Regions from separate parts of the Homo sapiens genome. Here region 1 is linked to region 2. The links come from fine-mapping of genetic effects on gene expression. A gene starts in region 2. The other region holds a variant in brackets. All regions are shown on one strand. Distances are between the middles of the regions.

What was found. PIP is the estimated chance that this variant, and not a neighbour inherited with it, causes the effect.
Region 1: its variant is the best candidate, but not a certain one, in a credible set for the expression of RECQL5 in fibroblasts (GTEx, PIP 0.88).

What each region holds. Positions count from the first base shown.
Region 1 is chr17:75,615,132-75,623,131 of GRCh38, reverse strand. It overlaps MYO15B (myosin XVB), which reads right to left. Exons shown (of 64, transcript NM_001395058.1): 34 at 7,794-7,892; 35 at 7,532-7,629; 36 at 7,248-7,439; 37 at 6,985-7,063; 38 at 6,686-6,820; 39 at 6,347-6,608; 40 at 6,171-6,258; 41 at 5,828-6,047; 42 at 5,210-5,322; 43 at 4,947-5,006; 44 at 3,914-3,989; 45 at 3,656-3,774; 46 at 3,333-3,451; 47 at 3,112-3,253; 6 more. Among named protein-coding and RNA genes, the nearest start is that of SMIM5, 14 kb to the left of the region's middle. The variant CA/A (reference allele first, on the strand shown) is at 3,000.
Region 2 is chr17:75,663,313-75,674,254 of GRCh38, reverse strand. It overlaps RECQL5 (RecQ like helicase 5), which reads left to right and starts at 7,101. Exons shown (of 20, transcript NM_004259.7): 1 at 7,101-7,211; 2 at 7,684-7,827; 3 at 9,083-9,204. The coding sequence starts at 7,698. SAP30BP (SAP30 binding protein) reads right to left here and starts at 6,917. Exons shown (of 11, transcript NM_013260.8): 1 at 6,777-6,917; 2 at 5,630-5,739; 3 at 2,392-2,439. The coding sequence starts at 6,882. RefSeq lists enhancers at 6,676-6,925, 7,096-7,195, 6,777-7,976.

The DNA of each region.
Region 1 (8,000 bases), 50 kb after region 2:
CTGCAACTCCTACCTCAGGTGATCCACCTGCCTCGGCCTCCCAAAGTGCTGGGGTTACAGGCGGGAGCCGCCGCGCCCGGCCCCTGCTTCTCTGATCTCTTACTCATCTCTGCTGGCTCCACCTTAACTCCCTGACCTCTGAGCGGTGCTGTGCCCTTGAACCTCTCTCTGTCTGCCCTTCTCCCCGTGTCCTCAGCTGGTCCCATTTGATGACTCCTGGTGCCTGCCTCCAGCCTTCTCCCTTGAACCCCAGACTCCTCCACTGGGAAGTCTGGGATTTCAGACCTCACGTGTCCAAAACAGATTTCCTCCACCAGCCAAGACCTGCTCCTTGAAGACAGTAGTTGTCCTCCTTCCCGTAGCCCACATGCAATTGGTCAGCACACTCTGCTGGCTCAATCTTCTGCTTCTCCCTTGCTGCCAGCACCATCCCTCACCTGGGACCACTGCAATAACTTCCTTTTGCTTTTAAACTTAGACACCCAGAATCTCAAACAACAGCCGAGTGACCCTGTGAAATGTAAGCCGAGTCTCTCTCCAGAATCCTCTGGTGGTTTCCCATCTCTCCAAAAATCAGAGGCCAATGATGGCTACAAGGCCTGTGGTGGCCTGGACCCACCATCCGCTCCCCATCCTCATCCTCCGTTCTCCCTGCAGCTCACTAGGCTCAGCCACGCTGGTCCCGGTGCGTGATGGTGCCGAGGCTTCCCCCCACATCTGAACTGTTGCCTGCCCTTCTCTGTCACCCCGTGCTCACTCCTTCCCTCCCTGTAGGAAGGCTTCTGCCACAAAGCCTTCTCCACTGCAGCAGCCCCTTCCCTGCATTCTTACTCTCCAGTGACCTCTCACTCCCAGACACATAAGTTATCTCATTGTAAGCACTGCAGAGACTTAGCCTGTTGGCTTCACAGCCACACCCCCCTGCACGCAATGGGTGCTCAGTAAATACTTTGGAATGATTTGAAGGACAGTGACCAAGAGAAGGGGATCTCCTTCAGGCCCAGACAGGAGGACAGGCACAGGCGCTGGGGGTCGCACAGCCCAGGCTTACCTTCAGCAGTTCATAGAGCAGATCCATCTCATCCTTGCCCCGGGGCTTGGACTGGTCACCCATAAACCGCATCAGGGCTGCAGGCACGATAAGAAACAGGGCACATAGCTGGGGCTGTGCTGGGGCTGGCCCCGGCTCATGCTGTTGCTGTGCAGGGCCTTCACCTGCCATCTGATGCCTCACTCTCAAAATGCATAGATGCCAGCCAGGGCAGCTGGTTGCAGCTCGACTCATGGGGAAACTGAGGCTCCTGGGTATCCAAGGCCCCACACAGCACATAGCATCCTCTGGACCCATGGACTGCCTTCCAACCCCAGACTCCACACAACCCACAACCCTTGAGTGGGAGTAGAAGCGGGTGAGGGCCCTGGGGTCCAGGAACCACCAGTGAGCTTCCCGGAGTTGGCAGACTGGGACAGAGCCAGGCAGAGCTCAAGGAGATAAGGGGACCAGACACCCAGGTTCATGGCACTGCAGACATGGGGACCCAGGATGCCTGTGGCCACTCACCCAGGAAGCTGGCTACAGCCAGCTTGCTCACATCATCACTGAGGCTGAGGAGCGACTCCTGGATGGGAGCCTGTGGCCAAAGAGAGGAGGCCATGGGTCTGGGGGGCCGTGGGGGTCAGAGGGCAGATCTACGGGCCAGACCCCTCCCTGCCTCTCTCCCACCTTGGTGTACTGCACCAGGCTGTCCGTGTCCTTTCCTGCGGCACCTCCATCAGTCTGGCCCAGCCTGTGGGGGGCAGAGGGAGACAGCCCAGCTTGTTTGGCCCTCCTGCCTTCATCCCAGCCAGCCAGGCAGGGAGAGTGCTAAGAGCACAGCCCAGTGGCTCTGAGCAGGGTGCTCTCTCTCAGGAAGACTGAGGACAGACAGGCACAGGGGTTGGCCCAGTGCACTCACAAGGCCTGGGACCTCCGGAAGTAACGCCGGGCGAATTCCTGCATGGTGTAGCTGTGGGAGTCGGGCAGAAAGGCATAGGCCACAGAGGACAGGCTGGTGGCCTCCGAGTCGTCACTGTGTGCCTGGCTCCAAGGGTGGGCAGGGCGCTGGGATCACAAGAAACCTGGTGCCACCTGAGTGTCCAGTGCCCTGTCCCAGGGGTCCTGCCCCAGCCCCATCCCTCCCCAGCCAGACACCAAAGGAGCAAGACCAGAAGCCAGGAAAGTGAAGAGCTGTTTATTAAGCATCTGCTGGGGCAGCCTTGAACTAAGTACCACGTGGGACACAAGAGCAGCATCCAGCCCAGCCCCTGCCTGCAAGGAGTGCACAGTCTTGCTGGAGAGACAAGGCGAGCCATCAGGAGCGGGCAGAGGGGCAGCCACAGGAGACGGACAGCAGGGTGGTCCCACCGCATGGCAGCCTCGGGAGTGGTCAAACCCCTTTCCTTCCTCAGTCTCAGGCAGGCCTTGCCTCTGCTTGTCCCTCTCCCATCTTCCTCACCTCTGAGGCCCTGTCCCACCGAGCCAGCCCTGGTTCCCCGTTGGACAGCTGACCCTTGTGCCAGCCACTCCTCTGCTCCTTGGAGAAGGAAAAGTCGGGAGCGGCAGCCGGCTGCACTATGTCGGCAGGAAAGAGTCCGGAACGGCCCCCGGCAGAGCCAAACTGCCAGCCTGGAAGGCACCCAGGGATGTGGCTCACCCACTGGACCCTCTGCCCCCGGGCAGCCTCTGCCAAGTGGATGCCCTCCCTGTGTGAGCCCCTGCCGGCCTCTGGCGATACCTGGCTCCAGGGTGGCCACCGGCAGCAGCTTGATGAGGTCCCCACGGTGGAAGCTGAGGAGGCTGCAGTTGTCAGTGATGTAGCTGCGCAGGGCGATGACATAGCCGGAGTCCTGTGGGCAAGCAGGCGAGGGCCTGGAGCAGCAAGTCTGCCTGTGCCTCCCTGTCCTGCCTGCCCACCTGCTCCCCCTGCTGGCCTGCCCCTCCACCTAGCACCCCAGACTTC[CA/A]GGGATTTGGCCCAAACTCCCAGCCCCTGCCCCCACAGGGAAGACGGACAGGGAGATGCAGCATCGGTGAGGGCTGTCTGCCCGGCCTCTCAACCCGTGCCCCACACTTACCTTCTTAAGCTCATTCAGGAATAGCTCAACCAGCGCCTCGATGGCCCTTGCCCGGGCTGTGTGCAGCACCAGCTGCTCGCTCTTCAGTGACAGCTCCAGGGTGGAGCCGCCCCGGCACTCCACACCCAGCACCTCCGCAAAGCTGCGCAGGGATCGGGCATGAACTGAGGTCACCTTGCCACCTGCCCCCACCTCTAGCCCAGGGTCGTGGGCTAGCGCACCTGTATGAGCAGAGAATCTTCAGCTGGTCGGGGCGGAGGCCGGGGCCTTGGGTCACCTTGAGCAGTCGCAGCCCACGGTGGGACACGGCTAACAGCTGCACGTCGCTGCCACTCTCGCCCTACAGGAAGGTGGTGGGTCTCGGGCAGTCTCCTGGGTCCTGCTACTGCCCAAGATGCCCTGGAGCTGCCCAGGGCCAGTGGCTGGGCTTTGTCCTTCCCCTGGCGTCTGCTCCCCGGCTCTCCTGCTTGTGGTCTGTGCCCATGCACCCCAGGATCCAGGCTGGGGGCCTGGCATCCCTACTCCCTACCCCAGCGCCACTGACCGAGACAGGAAAGAAGCGGGAGAAGTAATTGGCCCAGTTGTCCCGAGCGGCCACCACGATGCGCTTCTTGACGCTGTCTTCGGTGGTGGTGAGAGAATCCAGGTCCACCTCCAAGCCTCCTGTGGGCAGGAAGGACCCAGGCTGCCCTCTGCTCACACAGAGGGGGCTCTAGAGTTTGCTCCCATGCTGCTCCCTCCTTCAGGGCAGGCGCGGCCCCCAGCACTCAAGCTCCCAACTCCATGGTCCCTGGACCCATACCCAGCAGGTCTTTCATTTTCCGCCGCTCATTCTGGGAAATCCGGATACAGGACTCGGAGAAGGTGTCCCGTAGGATCTGGGGGCAGAGCGAGGTGGTCACCACCAGGTCCTGAGACAGAGCCCACCCCCAGAGCAGCCATCCACATGCATGAAGGAAAACCTGAGGAGGCCGATGGAGGGCGCCCTGGCCCCCATGGCCTGTGTGCTCAGCAGAGGGCCTAGGTGGGGCAGGGAGGGATGGAGGGCTTGGGCCACCTCCATTCACACGTCTCACCTGTCCCCTCCCCTGCAACTGCCAGCCCTCCCTTTTCACTCACTGCCCAGAGACCCCGTGGTAACTGCCCTTGGATCAGCCCAGATACAAGATTGTTCGGGGCAGGGGGCAGGTGCTACTGCAGAATTAGGGGGAACAGAGGCTCACTCCTGGGAGCGTTCAGAGGTGGCAAAGTGACAACCATTTATTAAGTACCTACTGTGTGCTAGAGCCTGTGTTGTGCACTGTACGCACTTTGCTTTTAAACTTTATCTATAAAACTAGATGAATAATGGTCCCTACTTCTTGTTGTTGTTGAGACACAGTCTCGCTCTGTCACCCAGGCGGGAGTGCAGTGGCACAATCTCGGCTCACTACAACCTCTGCCTCCCGGGTTCAAGCAATTCTCCTGCCTCAGCCTCCCAAGTAGCTGGGGTTACAGGTGCGTGCCACCACGCCTGATTTTTGTATTTTTAATAGACATGGAGTTTCACCATGTTGGCCAGACTGGTCTCGAACTCCTGACCTCATGATCCACCTGCCTTGGCCTCCCAAAGTGCTGGGATTACAGGCATGAGCCACCGCACCTGGCCATGGTCCCTACTTCTCAGGAATGTTGTGAAGGTTCAATGAAGGCAGGTCTGGGCACACAGAAGTGCCCCCCAGTGCTGGCTGCCAACATGCCCTACGTGGTGTTAACCTGGCCCAGCCATTAGACAAAGGGCACGAAGGATGCTGTCTCTGCAGATGTCTCAGGCTGGCAGGTGGGCCAGCTCTCACCTGCTCACAGAGGAGCCTCAGGTAGTAGGGATGGCTGAAGTTCTCCCGTGGGTAGAACACCTGGAGGAGGGCACAGAAGGGCAAAGATCGGTGGGTCTGGTGCCTCTTCCCAGCAAGCCTCTGCCCTCCCAGGCCTGGAAAATCAGCCTTGAGATGGTGGGCTGTGGGGAGGGGATGCTGGGGTCCCAGGCTGGGATGCACAAAGCCTGCCGCCTCCCTGCCAGCCCAAAGAGGCCAGGCCAAGGCCCCACCCTCATGCCCACCTCCTTGCGTAGGAACAACTTCCAGGGCGTGCCGGTGTAGGAGAAGCACACGCTGCCAGAGGGCGCGAGTAGCTGGGTGGAGACCCCCTGGTCCTCCACGGGCTGTGTCAAGCCTGGCAGAGAGGAGGGGGTGAGGAGCCTCAGTGAGGGGCTGCAGAGCCAGAGTGATGGGGGCACGGGAGGGAAGACCTTCATCCCCACGAGCCTTCCAAGGGCCCGGCTCTCCCAACCTCCAGCTGCCTTACTCCTTCCATGGCACCATCTCCTGCCTCCATTTTGGGCCCTAAACTTTCCCTGGCGTCCGTGAGGCTCGTGGGTCTTCTATGACCATGTCAGCCAGGGCCACTAACTTCCTCACAGAGCTGTCGGGTATGTGTCAGGGACAACACCCTGTGTGTGACAGCCTCTCGATGACAGCCCCAAAGATGCCCAGGCCCTGCCCTGGGTGGGAACGCGGAAGCTGGGACTCCCCAGCTACGTATGGCTCCAAAGTCCAGAAGCCCGAACAGCTGGCCTCAGCCACGCAGAAATGCCTTCAGCCCTGGGCACCGAGAGTCTGTGCGAACCCTGCCTCTGCCCCAGTGAAGCCCACGGCGCAGGAGAAATGTGGTTCCTTACAACGACGCTCTGCTGAAAGGGTCCCTGGGTCCTCGGGCAGAGGCAGTGGTGGCGCTGGTGGAGGTGGGGGTGTGTGGGCAATAGGCAGCTTCTGGCCAAACAGGTCCAGAAGGGGCCCCTGCTTTTCCTTGATGGAGCTAGAGGGCCCAAGCTGTAGCGGGGCCTTGGGTCGAGGAGCCACAGCTGGCGGGGGGCCCTTTCCTGGGCTGGGGGACAGCATCTGGGGGGATACGGAGAAAGTACACGGGCTGAGTCACAGCACAAGGCCAAGTTCGCCCCAGAGAGCCTTGAGCTCCCCAGTGCAGCAGCACACACTCTGGGGGAGACAGGCTGGGGTGCTCACCGGCGGGGACGAGTGGGCACCGTTGATACCCAGCTTGGCCAGAGCCTCGTCCTTGGGGTCGATTTTCCTCAGGAAAGCTTTGGGAGGCCTCGTGGGAGAAGCAAGAGGTCACTAAGTTCATAGGGTGATTCCCCGAGGAGCGGGACAGCCCTGGCCACCTCCCCGTGGGGGCCCACCTGGATGGCTGCACGGGCACAGGCACGGGGCCCGGGCGGCTCTGGTACATGCGGATGATGTTGCCAATTTCCCTGCTGGGTTGTGGCCGCTTGGGCTTGGAGTCTGAGCTGCGCACCACAGTCCCCCTGCCTTGGGCTGGCCCTTGGCCATGGCCCTTGGCCGCTGTCTCCTTGGCTGGCTCAGCCTCAGCCTCTTTTGGAGCTTTGGCCCCACCTTGCTTCAATGGCTTCTTCACGATGGGGGGAGGAGGAGGGGACGGCACTGACCAGGAAACAGGAAAGACTGTTAACCGCGTGCAGAGCCACCGGAGCCCCAGGCCCTGCCCAGCTCCCCACAACCTGCTCTTGTTTCCACTTCTTGCTCCTCCTGCTCCTCCTCCTCCTCCTCCTCCTCCTCCTCCTCCTGCGCTTCCCCCTGGGGGATGTGGACCTTGGCCGGGGGCTTCATCGTCCTCACTGTGATCTGTGGCTGCCCTGCAAGTGTCCAGATGGCCTTCAAAGTTACCCATACTGGCCCAGCTGGGCTCCTGGATGGGCCGCACCAACTCCGGGGAGCAGAGCACACCCCACCCTCCCTGGCCCGGGCCAGGGGCACTGGCCATGTTTCTGCACGGTCCTGCCACCCCAAGTGCCCTCACCCATCCTCTGGAAATAGTTCCGTTTCTGCTGGAAGCTCTTGGGCTGATAGGGCCTGTCTTCAGCCTCCTCGGAGGTCTCCTGGCAGAAGCAGAAATGAGTGGCAGCTCAGCCAGCCTGGGTGCCACACTCGCCACACCCCTCGGGTCCCCAGTCCTGGGCCAGCAGCCTCTTCCCTGTGTCTGCCTACTCACCCTGCCCATGTCCCCTGCCCCTGCAGTCCCCACCCTCACATCCCTTCCTGAGAATATGGTCACCTCCTCACCCTCAGGCAGCCACCCTCTGATCCCAGGTCACGCTGTGGCTTCTCCGGGGGTGTGGGGGGCTTCCTGGGCTTGGAGGTGACGGCTGAGGGTGAGGCCTGGGACGCAGCCTCGGAGGCCCGAGCCTGCTGCTGCCGCTGCTGCATCTGCTGCTCCAGGGACAGGGACATGGCCTGGGCTGTCATCTGCTGGGCCTGAAGCAGGAGGAGCAGCCAGTTCAGACCCTCATCCCCGAGCCACAGACCTCTCCTCCACCAGGTGGCCCCAGGGCCCTGCCAGCGCTCACCAGGATTAGCGCCTGCTGCTGGATAAAGTTCTGCTGCTGGACGGCCAGCTGCCCTGCATCCAGGCTGGGAAGCGGTGGCTGCGGCGGCACCACCATGGCTGTGAGGGCGGCAGGCGGCCAGAGTGGTGGGCACCATGGCCAGCCTTGAAGCTCGCTGCCCACTGTGCACTCGGGACTCCTAGCAGGACCCTCCCTCCTCCAGTCCCAGAGCTGGTGGCTGCTCTCCTGAGAAGGGACTCTGGTGCCCCCAGCCCAGACTTACCTGGCATGGCAGGGACTGTGCCCATTGCTGGCATCATGGGCATGGGTGCAGGGACCATGCCTGGCTGGTATGCAGGCATCTGAATCATTCCTGGGTACACTGAGGGAACACGCCCTCCCTGTCAGTCCCTGCCTGGGCCCACATGCCACCTCCCTCCAGCCCCAGGCACAGAGAAGAGCATCGGGCACCGGGGTGCTGGCCAGGGCA
Region 2 (10,942 bases):
GATTTGAGGTACATGTTGCTATGTGGAAGAGAGTCTGAGGCCAGCTCAAGCAGAAGGATGACAGGGCCAGGACTAAGATAAGAGTATCACAGAAGACTCATGCTGGGGATCATTTGTAGTCCTTGGAGATGCCACGAGGACTCCTAAAGGCCTGGCAGCCACTGGGGATTGCAGAACATTGAAGCTGGCAAGCTTTATCTAAACCCTTCTCCATCACCCTCCAAAAGAACTATATCAAGTGACTTTGAGGGTTGGATTTTGTGTTCTGATTTCTGAGGGCTCCTCAAGAGGAACAGAAATTATTCCATGAAAACTTTTCATTCCACAGTAAAACTTGAAATGCACATGAGTGAATGAGGAACAGCGAAGCACATCAGTCAAGGAGCAGGCAGGAATGACGAGGCTGTCAGCCGTGATGTAGGGCTGAGAAGGGGAGCCTGAGCACAAAAGGCATTTCCACAATCTTCCCAGCTTCACCTTTTTTGGGTCCCTCCCACCCCGCTCTTTAGTGACTGCTACTGGACAGCAGTAAAGTCTGTTTTGTTTTTCATGTGACCCCCACCCTGACTCACAAAGCCCTGTCATCTCCCAAGGATTTGTTGCCTGGATTACAGTATTTTAGAAGGGGTGACCGTTAAGTGTTATGTACCCTCCTCTCCAGCCAACTTCCCCAGGAAGCCTTCCAGCCCTAAGAAAAGGCTGCAACTGTACCCAGAAAGACTCTAGGACCCAGATCCTCCCTTCCCTCCACAACTGAAACCCAAACACTTAACGGCTCCCTGGGCTTGTTTTACGTGCAGGCTCCAAGTCCCACATACCCTAAATACTAGGCAGAGAAGATTATCACTACTGAGTGTTTTGTTCTGCAAGCCCGAGGAGAGCTGTGACTGACTTTGAACTATGGGGCCATGGGTCTGCCCATACCATCTTGCCAGTTCTCAGGCAGGGCGAGTTCTCAGGCCTGGGTTCCAGGTTTTTCACTCAGCATAGAAAGCAGGTTGCATTTACAGTTTTCAGGGGTTCTTTTTTTTCCCTCCTGCATGCTGGCGCCAAAACTTTCTTTCCTGGTAAAACACACTCTTATCTTTCTCACTCACAACGTCTCAAGATTTTAGTGGCTACATACAGTTCTATCCAATCACAGAATCAGCTCAAATATGGAACAGCTCACACTATATTTTCAAGAATATTACTGTTTTAGATTTTAATTGGGCATAAATTTCCTAAATTTTACTAGGTCATCTTGAAAGTTACAGCTGGTTTCCAAGCAGTTTTTTTTTGTTTTTTTTTTTGAGACAGATTCTCATTCTGTTGCCCAGGTTGGAGTGCATTGGCAGATCATGGCTCACTGCAACCTCTGCCTCCCAGGTTCAAGTAATTCCCCTGCCTCAGCTTCCCCAGTAGCTGGGATCACAGGTGTGCACCACCCACCAGTCTCACCAGTTAATTTTTGTATTTTTAGTAGAGACGGGGTTTCACCATACTGGCCAGGCTGGTCTTGAACTCCTGACCTCAAGTGATCCTCCCGCCTCAGCCTCCCAAAGTGCTGGGATTACAGGCGTGAGCTACTGCGGCTGGCCTCAAAGCAGTTTTTAACTGCAAAATGGGTCCTTATTCCCCGGGTCTAGAGTGATATAATTAAGTCTTTTTCTTTGGGGGTACAGGGGGGAAGTTTTTCCTCATAAAAAATGACTCTTCAGCAAGTACACATTTCTAATGGCCAATGCACAGCACAGCAGCTTAACCAACACAAGGGTGTCTTAACCTTCACAACAGATCATTATGGAATGTGATAGGAATTGCTACAAATTACTCTTGGCTGCTACTAGGATGACACTATGAGAATAGTTATGTTGTTCCGAAAAAGACCATTCTGTACAGCTTGCCCAAAAGTGGATGGACACACCCCCAGGAAAATGAGCATTAGACCCACCATCCCTGAGAGCTGGGGAGAGGCCTCATTTTGGTCTGACCTTCTTATAGCCTCTTGTTCACTTCTAGATGACTAAAGAGAACCCAAAGCACGCGAGGCGGCCCTTACACCTTCCTGGGTCTAGAAACAGACTAATCCACCTGCAGGGCAGTGACACTTAAAGCCCCATCTGGGATGCAGAATGCAAGTGGGTTGTTGGCCTCAGCCAGGCCTCTCGCCTTTCTAGTCAGGAGATATGGCACAATCTGAAAGGCTGGAAATCCAATGTGTCTCAGGATTTGTTCATTCCTGAGTTGTCTCCAGGTTCTTTCTTTATAAAGCTTATTTTATCCCAGAAAATGTCCACACAGTTGCACAGTTTGTCAGTGGGACAGATCTTGACCAAACATACGAACTGAGCCACAGTGTTCAAACACCTTGTTTGCATCCAGCCACCCACCACAGCCAACACCAAATACCTTTGGGTCATCAGCCTCAGGTTTTTCAGTCTCTGAATCGTCATCTTCCTACAAGACAAAGAATTTAGAGGATTAAGCTTAAAGGAGCGGGCCTGAGGAGTCTCACATGCATAACTAGGGGCCGGAGCAAACAGCCCATTTACCCAGCTGGGGTCATCCCACCAAGAATCCCTCCCCTACCATATAACTCAGAACCAGAGAAAAATAAGGGGAAAAAGAGATATTCTGGAGGGGAAAAAAACAAAAAACAAAAAAGCATCAGCAGCTCAAAGTCAAGTTACTTTAGTGGTGAGACAGTCCACATCAATGAAGATGCCCGAGTTCAAAGTCACATACATAAAAATGGAGAAAGCTTGCAATATGTTTTAGGAAAGAGTAAGATCAGGCCACACAATAAAACAGGCATCGTGTTTCCACTGAAGTATCAGTTATTTCAAATCAGGATTATGAGCCTTCTTTCCTTTTCATATACACATGTACATCAGACTCGGACCTACTCTAACAGTGTCCAACACCAAGTGCCAAGGCTTACACACAGCTGTATCGCAGCACCTCAACCGGCATTTGCACAAACATCAACACAGGAAGGCAGGCATCAAACTACCTGAGCAAGTGACCTGGGAAAGGCAGGACTAAAGGGCAATGCCCAACCTTTCAGGAGTCCCAGTTGAGTGGGCTCTGCCTCCACCTAAGTGCTCACAGAACTGCCAGTGATCCATTCTACCCAGTCCTGTTCCTTATCCAGATGAGGTCAGCCTGACACAAAGGATCACACACGGTAAGGCATTCTCCAAAGCGAGCCCGCCATTCCACTGAACGCTAACGCTGATGCTATGAAGGTCAAAGATCAGGAGCAGATGCTGGACCAGCTACCTTATTAGCTGGCTAAATCCATGTCACCTCCACTACCCAGAACACTCCCAATGCACAGAAGCCTTTAACTAAATACCCAGGAAAAAATGGTTTCATTTGAAACTACTATTTTCAACAAAGCTACATTTCAGCCCAAACATTACACAGCACTCCATATATTAATATAAATACCACTCGAGAGACTTGAACAAACTAGACTCATGATTTGGAGACTTAACTGTCCTGTAAGGTACCAGTGAGTCCAAGGCTTTAAATGCAATCTCCATAATCTCCTTAAAATGAAATCAGTCATGCCAAATAAACAGAGATGGAGCTCAGACAAATACAATCACATTTCAGAATCTCTACAACAAGATCTGATGAGAGGATTTTACTAAAATATGAAATGAAGCTTAAACATGATGAAAATTCTAAGCAAAGCAAATATGAAATAACACTTCAAAAACACATTATGCAAACGTACTAAAGAAAAGAGTTATGAATATTAAGCCAGAATGTGTGTACTTCAGAAAAGTCAGAAAACAACTTGCAAAACTTTTCTGAATAATTTCAGTCAACTCTGAATTATCAATATTAATGGATGGGGCTAAAGGCATGAAAGTATCTCCCAAAATGCATCATGTACAAAACGCATTTCTGTTTGTTGTGGAAATAATTTTTTTTTTTTTTAAGATGGAGTCTGGCTCTGTTGCCCAGGCTGGAGTGCAGTGGCGTGATCTCGGCTCACTGCAACCTCCGCCTCCCGGGTTCAAGCGATTCTCCTGCCTCAGCCTCCCGAGTAGGTGGGACTACAGGTGCGTACCACCATGCCCTGCTAATTATTGTATTTTTAGTAGAGATGGGGTTTCACCATGTTGGCCAAGATGGTCTTGATCTCCTGACCTTGTGATCCGCCCACCTCAGCCTCCCAAAGTGCTGGGATTACAGGCATGAGCCACCGTGCTTGGCTGGAAAGAATTTTAATGCTAACATTTACATACCAACATGTAACAAAAATTTCAAACAAATAATATATTTTAAGTGATTTAATTAAAACTTGCTAAGCAGTCAGATTTGACATCTAGACTCAACTCTGCCTGTCTTATGCTAAGCACCAACTTCAATTTCCTTGCGTTTTCTGCAAACTTAAATTCTGGCTCATGTTGCTCAGGTGATTATGTGTCTAAAGACTTTCTTGTTAATAATAGCACAGGTTCTCCTTTCTCCAGCACCTACTGAACTTCAGGCAAGATTTGTGATCAAGAACTAAGGGCACCATTATAAAAAGTGCCAAATAAAATGTCAAGAAAGAAGTTAAGAAGGCCAGGGATGGTGGCTCATACCTGTAATCCCAGCACTTTGGGAGGGTGAGGCAGGGGAATTGCTTGAGGCCAGAAGTTTGAAACCAGACTGGGAAACATAGTGAAACAACGTCTCTACAAAAAATTTTTTTTTAAATTTTAAAAATCGGCCAGGAGCAGTGGCTCACGCCTGTAATCCCAGCACTTTGGAAGGATGAGGCGGGTGGATCACCTGAGGTCAGGAGTTAGAGACCAGAATGGCCAACATGGTGAAACCGTCTCTGTGAAAAATACAAAAATTAGCCAGGCGTGATGGCAGGTGTCTGTAATCCCAGCTACTCAGGAGGCTGAGGGCAGGAGAATTGCTTGAACCTGGGAGGTGGAGGTTGCAGTGAGCAGAGATCGCACCACTGCACTCCAGCATGGGCGACAGAGCAAGATTCCGACAAAAAAAAATAATAATAGGTTAGCTAGGCATGGTGGCGCCCACCTGTAGTCCCAGCTACTGGGTAGGCTGAGGTGGGAGGATCACTTGCGCCCAGGAGTTCAAGACTGTAGTGAACTATCTATGATCACACCACTGCACTCCAATCTGGACAGCAGAGTGAGACCCTATCTCAAAAAAAAAAAAGAAAAGAAAAAGCAGGTGAAAACGAATTTTCCTTTCTTATCTTGTTAATAAACTGAGAAGACTTAAATGAGCCCCAACCAAGATTAAAAATAATGCAGAGTTGACTGTAGATATAAATGATACACCAGTTAGGATGAATGCCTGCTATAAATGGAGTAAATCATTTAAACAGGGAAAAATCAACATAAAACACCCATTGATATCTGGGTTAAATAAAATAATCCACTATCTTTTCCCCCAAATTTCAATTCAAAGATTAATAAAAAATGATCCATGTGAAAATACATTTTCAAACAGATCTGATATCCAATCCAGTTTCTTCCACTAATACTAAAACAAAACGGGAGAGCAAGGGATGGAGCTAACCATGAAATGGAACACTGTTGGCACAGTTCCAAAATCTGACAAATGAAATTGTGCTTTCAGTAGCTCTGGATCTGGGAGATTTACCTACCGACTGTCTACTGTTCTCATCTTCTTCTTCTTCATAACCATCTTCATCACCCCCTAGACGAGAAAAGTCATCCTCCCCATAGGCATCAGATACCAATCCGCCTTTCTCCTCTGAAAGGTTAAAAAACAAACAAACAAACAAAAAGCAAGAAAAAAAAAACAAGAGTTACAATGTAAGAAAAAATGTCCAGAGATTTGAGTGGCCAAGACTATCTCTGAAGATACAAAGGGAACCTAAATCTCATGTTAAGTTACAATAGGCCCAGATTCGGCTCTCTGAGAAGGCCAGCATTTACTGAATAAAATCATTAAAAGGTCAGGGAACAAAACCGAGTACTAAATTCTGTTTCTAATGCTATAAACACTAGATAAACACTAAAGTGTTTATAGGAAACCATCAGAGAACTTTCTGACTGGAAGAGACCACACAAAATCACAAAACATGGAAGTACCTAACCTAATCCAATCCCCTTCACTTTCCAGATGAGGAAGCTAAGGTCCTGATATGTTGTTAGGTAACTTGTTCTTTATTCTCCCAAAGGAATCTGTTTCCATTATCTAACATTGTGCTTCTCAACCTGAGGAGGAGAACATCACCGTTAGGCTTTAAAAACTCACAAAATAAGAAAAATCACCTGGGATCCTTAAAAAGTTCACAAATGCCCACATCCTACCCCAGTTCTACCGAATTAGGTTCTCTCACTTTGGGCATCAGATACGTTTGTTTTTAAAAGCTCCAAGATGTGTTTAGGGCACATTCCTAACTAAAAGTTATAAAGTTAACGAACACAATCTTTACCATCTTCCACGTATGTTTTACTTATCGCTCTCCCTCATCAAACAACGAGCCCAGGGGAAACAGGCAGTGGCTGAGCAGCCGCTCCCTCTTCGTCCATCCCTCTGTCTATCACTATAGCCGGCACGGAGTCTTTCAGTAAGTTTAGGCAAATTAATCGAAATAACGGGAAGGAGATTCTTCATTCTTAGTCCACAGTCTCTAATGCTCTATCTCACCCCGGACCCTGGACCATTCTTCGGGGTCCGGTGCTTGGAGCACAATGACCATCTTGTTCCCTCCCGCCCAGCGAGGGTACAGCATTCCGGGCAGACACCCGATTCCCCCTTCCAGCTTCGCACTTGGGCCTTACCAGCCGCGCTGCCCACCGCCTCGATTCCAGCCTCGCCATCAGACTCGGGCTCTGAATCTTCCGCGTAAACTGCGAGAGACGACAGAACATTCTTCTTCCCCGCCATCTTATTCCCACAGCCCGGGCGTGGCTCACTCCTATGACTCAAGACGCCGACTTCCGGGCGGAAAGGCAGGTTCTTTCGGATCCCAGGAGACCCCCGCGCCACACTGGAAACCAATCAAAACGGCAGTTTCCTGCGCCTGGCTCCGCCCTCATGCCAGCGCTCGCGCTACGTCATCACTGCGCGACGGATATAAGATTGCGTGGGTTCTGCCTAAAGCTGAATTCCCAGCGCTTTGGCTTCTCTGAGTTGGGGTTGTGTATAGGGGTCTTCGAACAGTTCCGGAACCAGCCAGCAGCCTTTAATTCTTGGGCGGACCACGGCCGGTTCTGATATCTTAGGGTGAAGAGAGGGAGGTGTCGGCCAGCCAAGAGAGAAAATTGCGGATCTTGGGCTCAGGAAGACGGGAGAAGGGGTTCGGGGTCCCGGGGTGGAAGAACGGTCGTCGTGGTTGCGCTTATAGAAGTAGGAGCAGGTGGTGGATCTTAGGAAAACGGTTCCCCGTTCTCCAAGCTGTTCTGAAGACATTTATGTTTCTTCTCTTGATCTGATTTCTAGCTCTGTGCTATACCGTGGCCTGGAATAGTTCAATGTTTTCATTTTCATTGAGCGTAAAAGTGGAGATGTTAATTACTGAGGAATGTATTGCTTGAGGCAGTTCACCTTCAGCTTTATTACTTAAAAATAATACATTATTTAAGTGTAATATAGCAAATTGTTACAGAAAAATAATCTGTATTTTTAATGCAAAACAGAGGGTTCTCGTGGCAACCTTTTACTACCTTTGCCTTAACCTTTGGCCACTGTTCTTGGCTAAGATGAGCAGCCACCATACCACCTTTCCTTTTGACCCTGAGCGGCGAGTCCGGAGTACGCTGAAGAAGGTCTTTGGGTTTGACTCTTTTAAGACGCCTTTACAGGAGAGTGCGACCATGGCTGTAGTAAAAGGTAACATTACCAAGCTACCTTCCTTTAAATTTATGCTGGCTATACCATAACGCTGCGGCAGAACACCCTCCTCCTCACCCTTCGTACTGCCTCACCTTTGGTCCATAACTGGATTTGGAAATCTTTAGAGTTGTCAAAGCTTGTAGTTTCGTTTATTTGTTTTAATTAGAGATGGGGTCTTGGCATGTTGCTCAGGCTGGTCTCCAAATCCTGGGCTCAGGCAATCCTCCCACCTCGGCCTCCCAAGGTGCTGGGATTACAAGCATGAGCCACCACGCCCGGCCCAAAGCTTGTAGTTTTAGTGGCAGAACCACCCAGCTGGTCTATATTTCATAGCTAGATTTACACATGGTCTTTGAAAACACTTCAGATTCTCATTATTGTTCGTTTGTACACACAAACGAACAGCAACAGTGAGGGTGGTAGGAATAACTTAACTCGGTCACTGGCCTCCTAGGTAATTCCCTTGTTGCAGGTTGAGTGGCCTTGGTCCCAGATAGAGAAGGAAAGAGTAATAATGTTATAAACCTGAGATACGGTGACAAATGGAAGTTGCCAAGAGGCGAGCAGCAATGTAATATTAATGATACATGTCTAAACAAAAGCCCTCTAAGTAATGTCCTCTCATGTCTACACAGATGTACCCACTCATCTAGCAGTACTCTGCTTTCATGGCTGTTTAGTTCAATCATCCATATCACAGCAGACTCAGACTTCTTTTTTTTTTTTTTTTTTTTTGAAACAGAGTCTTGCTCTGTCGCCCACACTGGAGTGCAGTGGCGCGATCTCGGCTCACTGCAACCTCCGCCTCCTGGGTTCAAGCAATTCTCCTGCTTCAGCCTCCTGAGTAGCTGGGATTACAGGCACGTGCCACCATGCCTGGGTAATTTTTGTATTCTTAGTAGAGACAGAGTTTCACCATGTTGGCCAGGCTGGTCTCAAACTCTTGCCCTCGTGATCTGCCTGCCTTAGCCTCCCAAAGTGCTGGGATTACAGGCGTGAGCCACTGCGCTTGACCCAGACTTTTTAAATCTTGTTTTTAACCATTACTAGAAATGGTTTGGGCATGTATCCAAGTTTCCCAGGATCCTTGCCTTTTTCATAGAAAGGACAGGAGGGGAATTAGGATTACATCGAGACCCTCCCATGTGCCAGACACTCTGCTAGGTGCTTTTCCTACATTCTCATTTAATTTTCAACAACTTCAATGAAAAGGCAGGAAGCACTGAGATATTGTTGTCTTGTATTTTTTCAGGTAACAAGGACGTCTTTGTGTGCATGCCCACAGGGGCAGGAAAATCCCTATGCTATCAGCTCCCTGCTCTGTTGGCCAAAGGCATCACCATTGTAGTCTCTCCTCTCATTGCTTTGATTCAGGTGAGGCTTAGGGCAATGAAGATGGTAGCCCAAAAAGATTCGGGGAAGGTTTTTTGAGGCTGGAAATTTCACTTCTCTATTGGTCTTTTGCCTCTTATTTTCTTTTCTTTTTCTTTTTCCTTTTTTTTTTTTTTTTTTGAGACAGAGTCTTACTCTGTCGCCTAGGCTGAAGTGCGGTGGTGCGATCTTGGCTCACTGCAGCCTCCACCTCCCGGCTTCCAGCAATTCTTGTGCCTCAGCCCCCCATATAGCTGGGATTACAGGTGTATGCCACCATACCCGGCTAATTTTTGTATTTTTAGTAGAGATGAGGTTTCACCATGTTGGCCAGGCTGGTCTCAAACTCCTGACCTCAAATGATCCGCCCACCTCGGCCTCCCAAAGTGCTGGGATTACAGGTGTGAGCCACCACACCCGCCCCTGCCTCTTATTTTCTATGATTTGCCTATCTCATTCGCTATATTGGGTTTCTGTATTTCCCCAATGTAGTGTTCTCCACTGGTGCATATCACTCTGGGAGGTTATGAATGACTCCTCTGAGGTCCCTCACCCTCCTTTGTTATTTTTTTGTTCAGAGGAGTATGAAACTGTATTTGTACACACATATACACTCAGTCTCATGTATACACACACGTGCACTCGTGATGTTGAGACAGAAGTTGCAGATGGATAGATAGCTAAGTTGATATGGGGAATCCCTGGTGTCCTGCTTATTTTGGTAAGGGCACAGTATGTGAAACAGAAAAAAAGATGAGAAACTGTCTGGGACCTTATTAACATCTGCTCTACAGGTGTTCTGACTATTTAAGGCCTGCAGATGGGCTGATAGAATCAGAATTGAGGAAGTGTGGCTGTGTGGGTAAGAGCCATCCACCATGAAGGAAGGTAGAGAGGGAACTACAGTAATAACTTGGTGAATGTTCACCAGGTCCCAGGCTTCGTGCTAAGTGCTTTACATACATTAATTTCTTTCTTTCTTTTTTTTTTTTTTTTTTTGAGATGGAGTTTCGCTCTTGTTGCCCGGGCTTGAGTGCAATGGCGTGTTCTCGGCTCACCGCAACCTCCGCCTCCCGGGTTCAAGCAGTTCTCCTGCCTCAGTCCCCCGAGTAGCTGGGATTACAGGCATGCGCCACCATGCCTGGCTAATTTTGTATTTTTAGTAGAGACAGGGTTTCACCATATTGGTCAGTCTGATCTCGAACTCCTGACCTCAGGTGATCTGCCCGCCTCAGCCTCTCAAAGCGCTGGAATTACAGGTGTGAGCCACCGCGCCCGGCTTACATACGTTAATTTCACCTCTCAGATGTAAATTTTAAGTTATACAACAATGCTATTAGATAGAATTGTATAAATCGTTCAGAGGGTAAGAAACAGCCAGCGAGCATGTGGCGATTAAGTGAGCCAGGATGAAATCTAAATCTGAAGTCTGTCTGACTTCAGAGCCTGTGCTCTAAACCACTTCACCTTCCATAGAGATTGAGCATCCCTAAAGCAAAAATCTGAAATCTGAAATGCTCCAAAATCCAAAAAATTTTAGTGCTGACGTGATTCCACAAGTGGAAAGTTCCACACCTTTCTGACCTCATGTGATGGGTTGCGGTCAAAACTCAGCCAAAACTGTTTTTTCATGCACAAAATTATTATTATTATTTTTAATATATATTTTTTATTATACTTTAAGTTCTAGGTACATGTGCACAACGTCATGTCAAAATTATTAAAAATATATAAAATTACA